Linked DNA regions of Homo sapiens: regions 2 and 3 are each linked to region 1. Evidence: fine-mapped expression QTL. A gene starts in region 1. Each other region holds a variant in brackets. All regions are shown on one strand. Distances are from middle to middle. Region 1 holds the start of LZTS1 (leucine zipper tumor suppressor 1). Region 2 holds the start of LZTS1-AS1 (LZTS1 antisense RNA 1). Region 3 overlaps LZTS1 (leucine zipper tumor suppressor 1).

Region 1 (5,966 bases):
TCATCTAATAATTATACATACCCCGCAGGGCTGCAGTGAAAATTAAATGAGATAATGAATAAAAAGTTCCAGGCACACAGTGGATTTAGTGGCTGGCATTAAGTGTTACGGTATTATCCATTACACTGGTCTATAAGGTGCTTACCCATAGGTCTGTCATCATTACATTATTCATCTTCCTAGCCTCGCTGCACAGCTCAGAGCCTTGCATTTGGTAGGCGCCCAATGAATATTTATGAAATGAACGTTGAATAAGCGCAAAGGCATATAAATAAGTTTTCAGGATTAGAAAGCCATTTATATACGTCTGGAGCCCATGTATAGCTTTGCTATACACGCTGACCCACGGCTTCTCAAAACTGAAAGGCACATCTTTCCCTCACACACTCCCAAAGCATTGGCTTTCCCCAGGGCACCCCACGCAGCAGCACTCCTTCTATGACAGCACCCCTGCCCCACATCGACCCAGGCACACACAGCTGGGGGCACCTCCTGCAGATACACAAATGCACAAGCTGAACTGCTGAGACAGGTTTACCTCGTGAAGCACACAGCCGCTGCTATAAATGTTAACTAACAACCATCTTCAGCACATCAAATGTCCCGCCCTCCCTTTTGCTTGCATATAGACACCCACAGAGATGCCCGTTCTTTTTCTACTAGTTTTCTTCTCTTCTTAAGCAGAGTGAGCGCCCCACACTCACATCCACCCAGCTGAGACCTCTTACTAGGACTCCCAGTTGCTCCATCCTATTAGCTGTGGGACCTTAGGGAAAGCCTTTCCCTTCTGACGCCTCCGTTTCTTCACTGGCAGGCACAGAGAGCCCACCGCACCAACCTGGTAGTTATGTTGTGAGGATAAAGGAGATAACGTATGAGATAACGTCTATGATGAGCAGAAAGAGCCTCCAAAGAAAAGCGCTGGATAAATACAAGGTGTAACGCCACGCCTGATTAGCCTGCATGCTCTCTGCCCACAGACTTCTACCCACAGACTATGTTCCACTCCACTCTTAAACACAAACACCTTTCCCGTCTGTACATGCTATCTCTAATACCCATATGCGCACACTCTTCGGGCACCTCCATTCTCCCTCTGGATGCCTGCAGAAAATTGTTTTTGAACTTAGAGAAAGCTCAGGTTGCAAACACCCTCTTGCCGGTACCCGCAGACTCTTCTCAGGGTCTTGGTGCAGGAACTGCCAAGCAGATAGCTCATCTCTTTGTGGCTGGGCTCCTGGGCTCCCAGCATTCCTATTAGGCTGCACTTCCAGCAGAGTGTGGGATCCTTATTAGGAGCAGCGCCTGCCCGGCATGGTCCAGAACTCAGTGCCTCCTCAGTACTTTCCCAGCGCCCGGGACCAGAGAGTAGAGGGGCTGATGGCAGCGGGACGGTGTGGAGGGAATAAGTGAGACAGGAAACACTTTAGGAGGCCAGATCCCTAAGCACTTCTTATTCCTGGGAAATTGAAGACTGCGAAGCTAACAAGTCTGGAGCACTTTCCCAGGCCTGACATACTCGTGGGCGAGCACAAGGCTCATTTGCTCCACAGTTCAAACCTTTCCACTTGGAGCACGAAAAAGAGACATCACCTGGCCCTTGGTGTCTCGGGGATGCCTGTTGCTGCCAAGCTGCGACCTCTGAAGCCCCTCCAGCCAGAGCAAAGCCTGTGGCAGGGTGGAGGGGTGAGGTCTGGCTGCCTAGGGTGGCGGTGGAAGAAGTGAAGGTAGTGTGGGGCTGTCTGTGTGTGCATGGTGCTTTGACTAAATTCCTGAATTGCACATCCAGGACCGACCCCAGGAAGCTGCAGCCCCAGGGAGCCACTTAGACACTTCGATTTACCACCTTCCTCTCTAACCACCTCCGCCCGTGTGACTTATTCCTTGAGGGAAACCTTTCAAATCTCTGGCTGCAACGCACCGGTGTCCTCCCCACCGGTGTGGACACAGCTCATCTGCAAAGTTCCAGGCGGCGAAGTTCAGCGGCCCGGACCGACCGCCGGACCCTCTTCCTGCGGCCCCTGCTCCTGCGGCCTCGCGTCCCCACCTCCCACTTCTTCACCTCCGACACCAGTGTCACCTAACACTGACGTCCCCGCCAGGATCAGCATCGGTGCTGGGAATAGACGAACCCCGTCTGCAGGAGACACGAAGACAAAGACAGGAGGACAGACGCACAGTCACCTCCTCTGGGCCGGGCCGGAGAAGCGGCGCCCACCCTGCAGAGGGGAGACCCTGACAGCTCCACGCGGAGACAAAGACACCTCGACAGCCACGGACACAGACAGACAAAGACCGACGGACGCGCGGACGCACGGACGGTCCGGCCCGGCGAGGGGAAAGCGGTTTCCCGCAGCCAGGGCAGCAGACCCTCCAGGGGCGAGGAGATCCCCGGCCACCGCACCTTACCTGCCCCCTGCGCCTCGGGCGCACTTGAGACTTTTTTTTTTTCCCAGTGTTTCCCGGTGTGTTCCCGTCTCTCTTTTTCCAGAGCTGCTGAGCGGGCCGGGCCGGTCCCACTGCGCGGGATGCAGCTCCCGGCTCCCACTCACTGGCCGAGGCGGGCAGAGAAACTTTCGGCCTCCCCGCCCGGCCGCTGCCAACCCGCCAGCTCCAGGCGCGCCGGCCTCTGCGCGGGTCCCGGAGCCGGGGCGGGGCGGGGCGGGGCGGGGCGGGGCGGGGCCGGCCCGGGGCGGGGCCAGAGCCGGCGCCGCTGATTGGCAGCGAGCTGCCGGCAGCCTGGTCTGTGCCGCTCGGCGGCCTTTGTTCCGGGCTGACAGCTGGGGCTGCTCGCGACCTCGCGGCTCCTTCGCGCCCGCGGCCTGCGCGGGGTCCCGGGTCCCGTCTCTCTGCTCTCACTTCCATCAGCCCCATTGGGCGACCCTGCCCCCTCAGTCTTCCTTTCTTGCCTGGCCCCCTTTCTCCGATTGTTCCTGTCTTGCTCTTGTCGCATCCTTTTTTCCCTTTCATTACCTGAAATTCTTACTCCAGTTTTGTTTAAAATCCATTCCTTCTCCCGTTCTGTGTATGTTCCCCTTTCTTCATTACCCCTTCCTCTTAATCGCCAGTTTATTTTTCTTAATACCGTCTCTCCCGCTCCCGACTCGCACTAAAGGGCGTGTGTTTTGTTCAAGGACTGGACTAGCACCCAAGTGAGGGGCATTGCGAACCACACCAGGATTACAGGCTAGAGTCCAGAGCACCGGGACTCCCACTCCCAAAACATGTCAAAAGCAAACTTTTCCAGCTCTGAGGGAGCTGAGTTTCAGGTGACAGCAGAGGCCTGTTTCAAGTTTATAGCTATTAGTCTCACCCAGTCCCCTTATAATACTATCATTTTCTCAACCACCCTCACTTTTAACTTCTAGCAACTGAGCCAGGAGAGGATTCAAGCTTACAAGGTTTTGTAGGACAAAGGGTCAGTTAACCGGAGTGCTAGGTGCAGCATGAGGCTTGGGGGCTTGAGGGTGCACTGAGGCTAATCCTCTAAAACCAGGCTTGGCGGGAAGATGGCAGCTCTGCCCAAGGAGTGTTAGCCTCATCTTGAAAGAAGCCTGTGTGTGTGTGTGTGTGTGTGTGTGTGTGTGTGTGTGTGTGTTGGGGGGTGGGGGATAGATGTAATGGATTAGGATTGACATAGCCGATCTGATTATAAATAGCATGGGGGCCGGACGCGGTGGCTCATGCCTGTAATCTCAGCACTTTGGGAGGCCGAGGTTGGTGGATCACTTGAGGTCAGGAGTTGAAGACCAGCCTGGCCAACATGGTGAAACCCCGTCTCTACTAAAAAAAAAAAAAAAAAAAAATACAAAAATTAGCTGGGTGTGGTGGCAGGAGCCTGTAATCCCAGCTACTTGGGAGGCTGAGGCTTGGGAATTGCTTGAGCCTGGAAGGCAGAGGTTGCAGTGAGCCAAGATAGTGCCACTGCACTCCAGCCTGGGTGACAGAGTGACACCGTGTCTCAAAATAAATAAATAAATAAATAAATACAAAAAAATTAAATAGAATTGTGGTGGCAGGGGGGACAGCTCAAAGGAAAACAAGCCATATGGTTTCTGCCACACCCCTGCTCAAAACCCTGTAGGGGAATCTCACTGCCTTCGGTTGTTGACCCTGAAGACTCTGACCTTCGAATCTAGGCTTCCTGAAAGATGGCACCGCGAGGGTTTAAGAACACAGACAGGCTTCGCTGCTTGTTATTTGAGCCATTACCTTCCCCTCCCTCTTTCTCAGTTTTTCTTTTTCTTTCTTTCTTTTTTTATTTGTGAAATGAGGTAACAAGTCCCAGTGTAAATTCCCTGAAGGCAGGAACTTGTTCTCTTTTATTGGTGGCTGAGGGACTTGGTCTGTTTTATTCATAGATGTATCCCCGACACCTAGAACTTGCCAGGCAACATAGTAGGCACTCAATATGTATTTGTTAAATGAATGAATTTCTCATGTATAGGTTTGTTCTGATGATTAAATGAAACCCACTGCCTTGCGGTAAGTACATACACGTGGCAGTAATTACAAGCAATACGACAATTTCTAAGTGTCAACCCCAAAGGCTACTCAGCCTTTTCCTGAACATCACCTCCTTTTCCCCACCTTTGTATAAACCTGCCCCTCAGTCTGAAAAGCTTTTCTCCTGCTCTTCTAACTCTACCTCTCAAAATCTGAGACAAAATATGGAACCCTTACTCACACCTTCTCTTATCGTCCAGGGCAAAATAATGTCTTCTTTTTCTAAAGCGCCATGCTTCTTTGTGTTGCATTTATTGACAGAGAACATGTATTCTTGCTTGCTGGTGAGAGTATCTCAAGAATTTTAGCTGAATGAGTTAATATCGATCAAACATTCCAGCGCTTTAAGGAAAGAGCAGACTCCTGGAAGGTAGATTAAGGTATGAGGTGGGCTCCAGACTTCAAACTCATTTTCACATCGTCGGAGGTGAGATTCCATGGAAGAGACAAAGGACTCTGGAAGCCCACTTTTTGTTCTGGCCCTACTGCTGACTATATGCTCTTGGACAAGCCATGTCCCTAATGAGGCCTCAGTTTCCTCATCTGGAAAGTGGATGGTTTGGAGTCCCTGATGAGACCTCAGTTTCCTATCTGGAAAGTGGATGGTTTGGAGTCCCTGATGAGGCCTCAGTTTCCTCATCTGGAAAGTGGATGGTTTGGATGAGAAGATACTCCTTAAGGACCCTCCTTCAGCACTGACACCTTTGTCAGTGACATTCTAGGTGAAAGCTGGGTATGATGTGCAGCCTTCCTGGAATGACTGAGTCAGGCAAAGGGTATGAGCAGTGTGTTGGTTTGTGTATGAGCGGTGGAAATGGGATACCCTATGGAACAACAGAAACACCCTGTGGAAGGGATACTTTAGAGACAGAATGCATAGAGAGTGGGGCTGGAAATGAGAAGGCAGAGTGGAGAAGGAGACCAGTGATGGACAGCACAGCATGTGTGTATGTATTATGGTTCCGTATGTGTGCATGAAAGCCTCAGGAATGTGGTCTCCAGCAGCACAAAGCCATAATTAGCTCCCTGATTCAGCAGTTGGGTATGGTAATGCAATGGCTGGGTGTGTCTACCCCCAACACCACCGGTAGGTTCTCAGTGTGGCTCCTTTTCTTCCTTGTCTAGTGAAGGGGCGCTGCCCTTCCTTAGTGTCTGGGTTCCCGAGAGGTGTCTTATGTGAAACTCTGCATCCCTCAGGCTCTCCCTTGCCTGAGTCGAGTCTAGAAAGCTGGGTCACAAAACATTTCTTGTAAAAATCTCCTACCCTCCTCCTGTATTCATCACCTGAGATACAGAGCATCATGCTTCATCTCTAGGACCTAAGATTGGCCACACTGGACCAGACCCATAGACCAGTTAAGCCAGCAGCTTGTTTGGATTACAGACAACTCTGCCTTCCTCAAGGTACTGTCACCTATCACAATTTAATTAATTCCCTGGCTTCTTGTTTGTCTGTTCAT
Region 2 (5,966 bases), 29 kb before region 1:
GAGCTGCTGGGAGCACCTGTGCATTTTTTCAATATTCACAAGTACTTATTGAACATTTATTGTGCACAGTCTCCATCAGGGCCCTGTAGGCATAGCACTGAGCAGAACAGAATCTGCCTTAATAGAATCATGTCATGAATCATGTCAGACAATGGACACATTTAACTTGGCATTCAAGGTCCGATGCAATCTAAGCCCAACCTGTCTTCCCAGGTCATCTCCCACTATTTCAGGCTAGAATGACTGGGCCTGCTTCTTGACTGATCCACGATGTGCAGCTGCTGATACTCTGGGTCGCATCTGACCTCCAGAGTGACCTTACTGGTGTCCCTTGACCACCCTCAAGGGCCTGTCTTGCTTTTTTCCTCCCCTGTGGCTTTGCTCATGCCCAATTCTCCCTTCTGAGCCTGACCCCCCTTCCCAGATCAGGTCCTCATTGGTTTTCCCTGCTGGGTGGTCTTTGTATTTTGAAGTGGTGCCTTTGTCCACTAGACATGGAACTCTTTTTTGAGCCCAGATGCCGATGGGGACCCTAGAATCAAGACCCCCTAGCTGCCCTGTGCTTCTCCTGCTCCCTGTTGCATTTCTCAAATCTTATCAGTCCTTTGCCACTTACAAAGCCCTGTACCCACCTCTGCTGCCACACTCCCTGCAGACAACTTCATCTCTATAATACAGAGATAAGTAGAATCATTGGGAGGAAACTCCCTCAATTCCCTGAACTCATAAACCTGCAATTGACATGACTGCTGCCTCCTCTGTGCCTGTCACCGTGAAACAGAAGTCTGTCTTCATCTCAGACTAATCCTTCCAGCCATGGCGTGACTCTCGTCAACGCCAACCTTCTCACTTCCAGTTTTCTATTATTCTCTCCCATGAGCATTTAAACGTGCACAAGTCTCCCAATTCAAAAATAACATACAAGCTCCTGGACTCCATTTTCTTCTCCAGGGACCACTGTCTTTTTTCTCCCGTTCACAGCCAAGCTTCTCGAGAGAGACAGAACATCATACTCACTATTGCTGCTCGATCATTTCTCATTGGCTCTTCAATCCACAGAGGCCCTGGTTTCTGTCCCCACCAATCCACTAGAACTGCCCTCCGGGATGTTGCTAAATCCAATGGACCTTCCCAATAGTTAGCAAACTTGACCTCTCGGCGGCTCTGTCTCTTTCTTTTTCGGTCTGTGTTTTTTGAAACACTGCTTCCTTGGCTTATGTGATACCGTGATTGCCTGGCTTTCCTCCTGTTGCGCAGCCTGTCCTCTGTCACCTTTACCTCTTTCATTCTCTAAATGTGGATGCTTTTCAGGCTGTATCTGAGACCCTGACCTCTGCTCCTTCTGCACGGCGTCAGCTGCATCCACATGGGGATGATTTTTAGATCGTTATCTGCAGCCAAATCCTCTCCCCTGAGCTCCTGCCCTAAACATCCAACTGCGCTTCCCTCGGAGGGGCCACATCTCACCCTCGCACATCCACAGTGGAATTCTTCATTCTCTCTTGCTTGCCAGGATCCATCTGCCTTCAGCGTGCCCCTCCTTCTGGAATCCCGGTGTTAGTGAACAGCACAACTGTGATCAAGCCAGAAACCGGTCCCAAGAAACCTAAGCAAACCAGGAACTTTTGATTCCCACTCAGCCCTCACCCTACATCTGACCAGCCACCAAGCCCTGTCTCACTATTGCTTTTCCTCAAAACCAGCATTTCCCTGAGATTCCATAGCCACTGTCTTAGTCTAAGTTGCTATCATAGTTCCCTTGGGAAATTAATAGACCTGTTATATTTGTTTTTTTTTTTCCTAGCTCTCCCAAGGCTACCCTATTGCCCCAAAAATAAAGCCCAAATGTCCTAACATGGCAGAGAAGGCCTTCATGACTGGGACTTTCTGTATCTTTGTATCTTCATGTCATCCGCCACCACTTCCTCTCCTCCCCTCCCCAGGCCTGCCCGCCCTCTATTCTGAGACTGGAGTTTGTAAATCTGTCATTTTCTCCCTCAGACCCTGCCCTAGGTTTTCCCACGCTGCTCCCTAGGCCCAAAGCCCCTGGGACTTTGCTCAGAAGGCACTCTTCTGCTATGAAGCCTTCCCGTATCTGTGAGGCCCCTTCTGCGTGTTCTTACAGTGGGCATTAATCACTCTGTAGCACAGCTGCTCTCTACTTTGAGCTCTTTCTCAGTAGATGGCAAGACTGTTTTTCACCCAACACTGTACTCCCAGCTTCGAGCGCAGTACCTTCTGGCCCAAGACTCAGTGCTTGTTTGTTGAATGAATGGATAAGCGTGTGTTTATGCATCGTATTTTATTTTATGGTGCCTATGTTCTACCAGCTACCCTTTCCCAAATGCAACACCATAAAACACTCTACACAGTGGGTGTTTACGAACTTTTCATCCCTTCTCCTCATCCTAGGGAACCCCTTGGAATACACTAGGTAGCTTGGAGCATAGCGGCAATCATCTCCATCCCGGTGTGTGATGGAGGCTTCTCCATGTGGGCACTCATGCCTCAGTGGCACTCTGGCCTGAGCATTGGGTCCGAG[C/G]CTGTGGGCGTGTTGGAGTCTGTGGGCCTGAGTGTTAGACCCCCCTTATGTGGAGATAAGATTACAGCTGGACAGCGTAACCCAATGGGGCGTAAGTGCGTGTACCAGCGTCAACACTCCCTTGGTGTCGAGCTTTTCTGCACTCCAAGCTCCACTTTGTGAAAATAATCTGGGACACAGCACAACCAACTGTCCTGATCTGCCTGGGACTGTGGGAATTTCTGGGATGTGGGATGTCAGTGCTAAATCACCAGGAAAGTCCTCGTAAAGCGGGATGCATTGGTGGCCCCACCTAAACTGGAAGTTAGGATTTGTACAAAAGATTGAATTAGTTCTCAGTGACCCCTCGACCTAACCCTTGGTCCCTCACTGAGTGGGCTCCTTGGAGCGCTGTGATCAAAAACAAAGATAGAGTGGCTGCCATGATACTGTGTGTGTGTGTGTGTGTGTGTCTCAATGGGATTACCTCTCAGGATTGTGATATTCGCTTCCTGGAGGGAAGTCTCTGAAGGGCAGTGGGTGGGGGACAGATACTAATGTGTGTGGAAGAGATGGATAACTCATTAACTGGGGACAGAAAGAATTATGGTTGGGCGCCATGGCTCAAGCCTGTAATCCCAGTACTTTGGGAGACTGAGGCGGGTGGATCACCTGAGGTCAGGAATTCGAGACCAGCCTGGCCAACATGGTGAAACCCCATCTCTACTAAAAATACAAAAATTAGCTGGGTGTGGTGGCGGGCAGCTGTAATCCCAGCTACTTGGGATGCTGAGGCAGGAGAATCACTTGAACCCGGGAGGCAGAGGTTGCAGTAAGCCGAGATGATCGCGCCACTGCACTCCAGCCTGGGCAACAGAGTAAGACTTCATCTCAAAAAAAAAAAAAAAAAAGAATTGTCCATATGGGTTAGCTCCCAGCCTTACTTCCCCCACCCGGGAGAAGCTTTCCTGCAGACCCCAGAGAGAGGTGGGCTGGGAGTTGGGGAAGGGCCTAAGCAGGAGAAAAAATCTAAGAAGGCATAGGTGAGGGAATCCTAAAGGGTAAGGGGCAATCTCGGGGTAAGAGAGGAGAAAGAGAAGGAAACAAGGAAGGACGAGGAAGATGGAAAGTGCTGGTGGGTCCAGTCCTAGCAGCAGAGGGAGGGGTTAAGACTGGGACTCCGGAGAGGACCTCCATTGTGATGCAAATGAGTGACTGGGCAGAGAGAAGGGGCCCTGTGGGGAAGGGTGAGGGTGCAGGGCAAGGACAGCAGTAGGAGCTTACTGCAGTGACTGTATCATAACTGCTGGTTATGAGGATTGGATTTCTTTTTTGCAGATGTCACGTGCCGGGGTGAACTGTTATTAACTAAAAGGAGTCAGGGCTTAGCTGCAAGAAAGGAGGTATGTGGTTGAGTGCATTTCAACATGGGTAGAAGAAATGGTGTAGCCTGCAGAAATGAAGGCAGGTTTTTGGGACTGGAGCACATTTTAATGGGAGGAGAAGTCTATAAAGCTAGTAGCCCCCTACCTACTCCCCCATTATAACTACTTCCAAAAAATAAAGAAAATGTTTAAGAGGCCTATAGGTTATCAAGAAATAATATAATCCTGGGATAGATTCATTTTAAGATACGCTGGTTTAATGAATGGATGACTATGATATTATAAAATATATATTTGGTCTTTGACCCCATTTCCTGGCATCCTAAAATCCTTAGAGTCTCCAGAGTGATTTTTTTTTTTTTTTGACTGATGGTTGGTAGCTTCAGAATAGGGCAGGTCACCAGAAAGACCAAGGCAGGATTAGATGGTTGGGACTTTCAGCCACTGCCCCTAACCTCTGGGGAGGAGAGAGGGGCTGAAGGTTAAGTTGATCACCAATGGCCAATGGCTTAATCAATCATGCCTATGCAATGTAGCCTCCATAAAAACCCAAAAGGACAGGGCTCAGGAAGTTTCTGGATAGTTGAACACCTGGAGGGTCTTGGAGGGTGGCGTGCCCAGAGAGGGCATGGAAGCACCCCACCTCTTCTCCCCTGCCTTTCTCTACGCATCTCTTCATCTGTATCCTTTGTAATATCCTGTACAATCAATCAGTAAGTGTGTTTCACTGAGTTCTGTGAGCTGCTCTAGCAAATTAATCAAACCCAAGGCTGGGGTCATGGGAACTCCAATTTATAGCCAGTCAGAAGTATTGGTGAAACAACCTGGTGAATTAATCTCCAGGTAGGTAGTGCCATAAATGAACTGAATGAGAGAACATCAGAGGGTCCTCTGCAGAGCTGATTGTTTTCTTGTTGGTTGGGAAAACCCCACATATGTGGTAATAGAAGTCTTCTGGGTTGATTGTTACGGTGTTAGATCAGAGGAAAACGGTTTATTTATTAAAGGTGCTCCCAATACTGGACATTAGGATTAAGGGTAAGCATGTCAGAGGCATTTGAACCAGAGCAACTCCATGTTGAATAGGGGCTGGGTAAAATAAGGCTGAGACCTACTGGGCTGCATTGCCAGGAAGTTAAGGCATTCTAAGTCACAGGATGAGACAGGAAGTAGGCAGAAGATACAGGTCATAAAGACCTTGCTGATAAAACAGGCTGTGGTAAAGAAGCAGGCCAAAACCTACCAAAACCAAGATGGTGATGAGAGTGACCTCTGGTCGTGCTCACTGCTCATTATATGCTAATTATAGTGCATTAATATGCTAAAAGATATTCCCAGCAGTGCCTTGGCAGTTTACAAATGCCCTGGCAATGTCAGGAAATTACCGTATATGGTCTAAAAAGGGAGGAACCCTCAGTTCTGGGAAGTACCCACCCCTTTCCCGGAAAACTCATGAATAATACACCCCTTTTTTTAGCATATAATCAAGAAATAACTATAAGTATATTCAGCTGAACAGCCATGCTGCTGCTCTGCCTATGGAGTAGCCATTCTTTTGTTTTGTAAACTTGCTTTCACTTTATGGACTTGCCCTGAATTCTTTCTTGAGCAAGGTCCAAGAACCCTCTCTTGGGGACTGGATTAGGACCTCTTTCCAGTAACAAGTATATAAGGCTGGTATTAATTCCAACAGGACAAACCAAGAAATGGTTTAAGAACTGGGCCTTTAACTGTGGATTTTCACTTTGTAGGCTGATCTATGAGTTGGAGGAAGTAGGGTGGGGTGTTAGAAAATTCCAGCAACTCCAGGTGGGCGAACTGTCCTAAAAGCACCCTTTTCTCTGTTTCTGTGCACCATAGTGCCAAGAATCTGGTGCAAGATCCAAAACAGCAGGATTTGTCAGCCTCCTAGCCATTTCCCAGTAGGACTTGCTGTGTCTAATGCCAATTCCAGCTTGGTGCAGAGCTTGGGAACCCTGGGACTGGAGGGAAGGCTGGGAGCAGGATAATGTGTGTGTGGAAACACTCCCATCTACTATGAGCACCTTGGAACGTCTTGC
Region 3 (5,966 bases), 53 kb before region 1:
AAACCCTGGACTCCCTGGGGCACTGCCCAAGCTCCTGAGAAAGGGAGCTGCTCTCTGGATCCTTTAGTCTGGGACAAATGGGGGTCTTGAGGTGGAGGGAGGATGGCTGGTGGCCAGGCTATTCACACTGCTGTGTGTATGCCTCTTTTTCGTCCTGCTTGGGGCTCTGGCTTCCTGGCGCTCTGAGGAGCCGTCCTGACCTCTAGAAACCCAGAACTCAGCCCTGAAGGTGCTAAGGGGGAAAGGTTTGCCGCTAAACCTGGCTGTAGGCAGAGGAGGAAAATGCCCAGATCACATATATGCCATCTTAGTGATATGGGCTCTTCTGGATCAAGCAAAAGCTTGATTCTGGGGAGGGAAAAACATTCCAGAGTAGCCGCCGGCCAACGTGAAGCAGGTAGGGACTCCCAGCCTCTGGCCCCAGCTGGACAGATGGGGAGGCTCCCTGAGGGTGCCTGGAAAGCCACACCCTCTGGTTCACGGTGGTTTCAACCCTCCCTTCCCAGCACCCAGCCCAGGGCCTCAGGGTCTATGGCTTAAAGAAGAGTGGTCACCGAGGTCAAAGGTCACTGGCTGTCCAGAGGCTGCTCAGCTCCCATTTGCAAGAACCAGTAAACAGGGGCTGGGCCCCAGGGGCTGGCCATCACCCGCCACTGGCTCTCAACCCTTGGATTCTCCCTCTGCCCTCCTCTGGCTGTGGCAGGGTCTCCACACTGCTGGGCTGCCTGTCTCTCCCCTCCTTCCTGTGGCTTGCCGGGGCTGGGACAGCCCTGAGGTTTCAAAGCCAGCTTCCCCGCGGCTCATTCCACCCCTACACCTCTGCGGCCAGAGGAAAATAGCTCAGGTTCTGATGGGGCTGGTTCCAAGGCTTCTGGTCATATATGGCTTCTTTCTATTTCCAAGGCATTCCAATGTGTCCAGGAGGAAAAAGAGGTTGGGATGAGAAGCAGAGGGGAGCCGCTGTACTTGCTGTGGCCACCTTCCCTGGAGGAGGGGGAGAGGATATCTATTTCGAACAAAGGCCAAAGTTTAGGGAGCCCTTAACCAAAGCAGACAGACCCCTGGACCCATCTCCTGGGAAAGCCAGAGGAGTCAGGGCCTGACGTCTGGTGGGCTGCAGGGCTGGTGAGCACTGGGACATCAGAGAGGGAAGGAAAGGCCATCCTGCCCTCCCCTCGGGGGTCCTGGGTCTGTGTCCCAGGGAGTGGCGTCTCTCAGAGGGGTCTGAATTGCTGAGCAGGGGGGATGCACGGGAGAGCCCTGCCTCCCAGTGCCAGGTCCCCAGACTCGCCTTCCCAGGCAGCCCCTCAGATCTCAGTGGCTATGATGTCCTCGTAGGGGATGTCAGCCCCTTCCAGGTCAACCTCCAAGGGCTCCCCGGCGCTGTCCCCACGTGCCAGCTGCTGCAGGGCCTTCTCCAGGCGCTGGTTCCGCTGGTACATGGCCACGTAGCTCTGCTGCAGCTGTTTCTGGTACTGAATCACCTTCTCCTTCTCCTCCTTCCACACGAGCCGCTCATGCTGGAAGCCCGAGGACATCTGGTCATGGCCTTGCCGCTCCTCCCGCAGCTCGGCCCGCAGCCGCTCCAGCTCCCGCTGCAGGGCAGGGACGTCCTCGGGGAAGGTGGGCGGCCCCATGTCGCGGGCCAGGGCGGCCTGGGCCCGCAGCTCCTGCAGCTCCTGCTCCAGCAGGTTCACCTTCTCCCGCAGCAGCTCCGCCTCGTTCTTCTTGCGCTGCAGCTCATTCTCACAGACCTCCAGCTCCAGGCCCTTGGTGCGCAGGGCGCCCTCCAGGTCCTGGGTCCTCAGCTCCAGGCCCTCCAGCTTGCCCCGCGTGTCCTTCAGCTGTGCCTTGAGACCCAGGATCTCGCTAGCCTTGGCGTTCACCTCCGTCTGGGACTCCTTCAGCTGCTGCTTCAGGAGGGAGATCTCGCCTGACTTCTGGCACACCTGCCGAGGGTGGGGTGGAGACAGAGTGCCAAGAGGTGAGTGTCCTTACCCAGGGAAGTGACAGCTCAGCTGCCTAAAATAACCAAGCCACTCCGGATGCGGTGGCCCGGTGTTAGGCATTCCAGCCTTTGTCCAATCTGAAAGTAAGCTGAACATTGCTGTGACCTTTTCCCCAGGTTATCGAGCTAGGCTATATAGTAAAATGATAAAATAATAATAATCATGTATAATGACACATAGTATATTATTATTGTTATTATTTGAGAAGTCTCGCTTTGTCACCTAGGCTGGGGTGTAGTGGCGTGATCTTGGCTCACTGCAACCTCCGCCTCCCCTCTGATTCTCCTGCCTCAGCCTCCCAAGTAGCTGGGATTACAGACACCTGCCACCATGCCTGGCTGATTTTTGTATTTTTAGTAGAGACGGGGTTTCCTCATGTTGGCCAGGCTGATCTCGAATTCCTGACCTCAAGTGCTCTGCCTGCCTCTGCCTCCCAAAGTGCTGGGATTGCAGGCGTGAGCCACCACGCCTAGCCACACAGAAGTATATTATTATAAACATACTTTCACTAATAATTTGTAGTGTTATTAAGTGCCAAGCCATACATTTGCTCATCTATTCCTTACAACCCGATGAAGTAGGTACTATTAGTAGTCCTCAATTTACATCAATGAAACTGAGGCACAGAGAGGTTATGATAGCAAATAGCTGGTGAAGTGACCAGCCTGAGGGCTAATATATATATATATATATATATATATATATATATATATATATATATATATAAAATATAAAGTATAAGAGTAGAGATTTGATCCCAACAGTTTAATCACTATACCCCATTGCCACCATGGCTAATGTATTTACAATCACCTGGATCATAAGTGGTCAAGCTGAGGTTCAAAGCCAGGCCCATGCCTCAGCCATGACTGTGTCACTCCCTTCGTGGCATGAATACAGGGTTGGCCTTGGAATGAAATTCTTGGTCCCAAGCACGCATCCTGGGTAGGGTCGGATTTTCTCCAGGACTGTGCAGTGTTTCACTGAGGGCAAGGGGAAATTTCTACTGTGAAAGGAAATGTGAAGGTGGCTTCCAGGCTAGTTCCAAGAATCCATTCTGTAGAGCCACATGCTCTGGACTTCATTCACTCTTAAGATTCAGCCAGACTGGCCTTGGTCTCCCATGACCCCAGATGGCCAAGATCCAGAGACACATGGGTCTAACCTGTGGCTTCGGTTTTCATCATTGCTCTTGGCCAAATTTTGATGGGGGATAGGGGTGGAAATAGAGAAGAAGAGCAAGAGGAGAAGACAATGATTCCTCGTTTGACAGATGTGGATTGGGCTCTGCATCCAAGCCAGCATGATACTAGTCACTGGGTACAGCAGTGAATTTGTGAGGTAGTCTTTACTCCAGTAGACAGGAGAGAGGAGGGCTGGGTGCATGCAGGGGTGAGGTCAGAGGATGTGGGCATAAAC[G/A]TCGATGACGGAAATCAGGCTGACACCAAAACCAATACCATTGGTGTTAAATGGGGGTGATACAGCTGCCAGCAGTGGGCAAGTTAAACCACTGGTTGTTGACTTGCACATAGCCAGGGGTTTGCGTGTAGACTGAGAGTTGGACTCTGAACTGGGGGTGAGGCAGGCACGTGGACAGACCAAGCTGGGTGCGAGCATGTAAAGAGCCTCAACGATGGGCTTGAACTCCATGAGTCATCCAGACCACCAGGCTGGTGAGAAAAGCTGCTTTCCCACTAATAGATGCAGAGGTTATGGGGTTCTCCAGCACGGTCAGGTACAGATGCCTCATTTCCACGTGTGACCGGGTGAGTGAGTGTGTGTGAGTGTGTAAGTGTGTGAGTGGGGGACTCTTTACTTCCTCTCCTAGGTTTCCATCTCAGCTCACCAAATAGAAGTTCCACTTACACTTCAGCAAGGAGTGGCCACTTCCATCACTGAAACCTGCCACCAATAGGGTCCCTCTTACTAGTGGGTGCAGTCCCTCCCTCCAAAGCAACAAATGCATTCTGTGCTCTCTTGGGCCCCTGGCCCCGCCTGAACTCAGGCACGGCTTGTTCTTCTTCTGAGCCTCCTGGGAGCTGATGGAAGGGAGGTCAGCCCACAGCCTGGCTGGGCCTTGGTCATCTGGCTTCCGGCTTCATGATTTAATGGCTCACTTGGGAAACTGAAATCTAGGAGCCATGAGGGTGATGGTGGGGACAGGAGGAAGCTCAGATGTAAGTCGATCCCCCAACATGGTTTGCAGGGAGCCCCTTCTTTGGGTGATAAAGCCAGCACATTAGCCCCGCTTGCCTGCGCGGTCTGTGTTTGCACGCTATTGGCCGGCACCAGAAGGAGAGGGGGGTACTGGCGCCAAACCGCTGACCACCCAAACCCATGAGCCCTGTGTGGCCTCACCTCCCACTGGGTCTCCTCCAGCGCGGGGCCGAAGCTGGTCTTCTCCCTCTCGTAGGACCTGAGCTTGGTCTCCAGCAGGTCCTGCTCCTTCATGAGGCTCTCGAGCTCCTGCCGGAGCTGCCGCTTCTCCTGCTGAAGCTGCAGTACCTGCAGGTGCAGGACCTGCTGCGCGCGCTGGCTCTTCTGCGAGGCCTGCTTGAGCTTGTTGCCGCCTTTGGGCTCCGGGCCCTCCAGCTCGTCCCTGCAGCGCCGCGGCCGCTCCTCGTAGGCCAGGCTGGAGGCAAGCTCCTTCTCCTCAAAGCTGCGCTGCAGCTTCTGGAGGGCGCCCTCCCTCTCCAACAGCTTCTGCTCCAGCTCCTGGATGCTGCACTCGTCCGTGGAGATGGGGGAGCGGACACACGAGGGGCCCTTGTCTGCCTTGTTCGAGTGGCCCAGCTTGCTACCTCCGTCGGAGAAGGACAGAGCCTTCAGGCTCATCATGTTGCTGTCCTGGAGGACGATGCCCTGGGTGATGTTGTGGGCGGAGCCCCCAAAACGGCTTGTGGGTCCCACGGGTGTGACCAGCGGGTCCAGCTGGTAGCTGCTGCTGGTGCTGTGTGTGGGCAGGCTGGACATGGAGTTCCGGCCGGAGTCTGACAGCGCCCCAGAGCACAGGCCAGGCTTCAGCTCCTGCTCCTTGGGCTTGTCTGGAGGGGCGGGGTGCAGCTGGTGGCTGGCACTCTCCGGGGAGGAGTGCAGGATGGCTCCTGACCGTGGCAGCACAGGCTTGAAGGCTGTGGGCCTCACTGCACCCTTCTCGGAGCCCTGTAGAGGAAAAGGACCGCGGTGACTCATGCCTCCCCTGCGCGCGCATTGCACCCTCCCTCCCCAGGCACGCGTGCCGACCTTGAGCCAGTCTGGGCTCTCTGAGCGCACGCAGCACCCCTCTTGGTCAATTGTCTCAGCAGACCTTGCCTGTTGCTTTGAAGCAGCTGAATGTCATCTCTCTTAGGAAGGAAAAACCCTAATGGCGACTTGGGCACTTTGTTCTATGAAATAGCAACCTGCCACCAGCTTGCCCCAGCCCTCCCGAGGTGATAAATACCATCTTGAGGCTCCTGCTCTAGGTCTCTGTGTGGGGCAAGTTAGGGCATCAGGCTGGCCGAGCTTGCTGTCCCTCTTTAGGTCCATCCCTTCTTCCTGTTCACTGCCTCTTCCATTAAGCCTGGAGCAAGGACACGGACCTGGCCTCCTTACAGGGTTGGGAGGCTCACTCCAAATCACGATCCTTTTTTAAAACTGTAATTTTCCCTGGTAGAGTGCTTCACAGTTTACAAGCCCCTTAATTTGAAAAGCTGAATGCTCTATGCAAACATAAGAGGCTCTTTCCTAGTAAATCAAAGCCGGGGATTCATTTCCCCAGGGCAAGGGGCAGAGGACTGAATAGGAAAATTGATTTCAGTGTCCACTCGTGGGACGCACGAGGGCTTGAGCTGGTGTGAGGGCTGGATTTCTCAGTGCCTGGGCCTCCTTTGCCCTAATCTCTGGTAAATGGATGACAAAACTCCAGCCTGTATTCAAAGATGCCCCCAGGCGCAGCTTGAACAAGGAGCTAATGCA

Evidence for each region. PIP is the estimated chance that this variant, and not a neighbour inherited with it, causes the effect.
Region 2: its variant is fine-mapped to the expression of LZTS1 in whole blood (TOPMed, PIP 0.91).
Region 3: its variant is fine-mapped to the expression of LZTS1 in blood mononuclear cells (TOPMed, PIP above 0.99). The same link has a PIP of 0.9 or more in whole blood.

What each region holds. Positions count from the first base shown.
Region 1 is chr8:20,301,331-20,307,296 of GRCh38, forward strand. It overlaps LZTS1 (leucine zipper tumor suppressor 1), which reads right to left and starts at 2,633. Exons shown (of 4, transcript NM_021020.5): 1 at 2,410-2,633. RefSeq lists a silencer at 2,623-2,692.
Region 2 is chr8:20,271,991-20,277,956 of GRCh38, forward strand. The region is part of intron 1 of LZTS1 (leucine zipper tumor suppressor 1); the gene reads right to left. LZTS1-AS1 (LZTS1 antisense RNA 1) reads left to right here and starts at 3,783. Exons shown (of 3, transcript NR_047509.1): 1 at 3,783-3,924. RefSeq lists an enhancer at 1-419. The variant C/G (reference allele first, on the strand shown) is at 2,543.
Region 3 is chr8:20,248,415-20,254,380 of GRCh38, forward strand. LZTS1 (leucine zipper tumor suppressor 1) reads right to left here. Exons shown (of 4, transcript NM_021020.5): 3 at 4,368-5,171; 4 at 1-1,949. The coding sequence ends at 1,308. Among named protein-coding and RNA genes, the nearest start is that of LZTS1-AS1, 24 kb to the right of the region's middle. RefSeq lists enhancers at 610-1,151, 1,152-1,695. The variant G/A (reference allele first, on the strand shown) is at 3,429.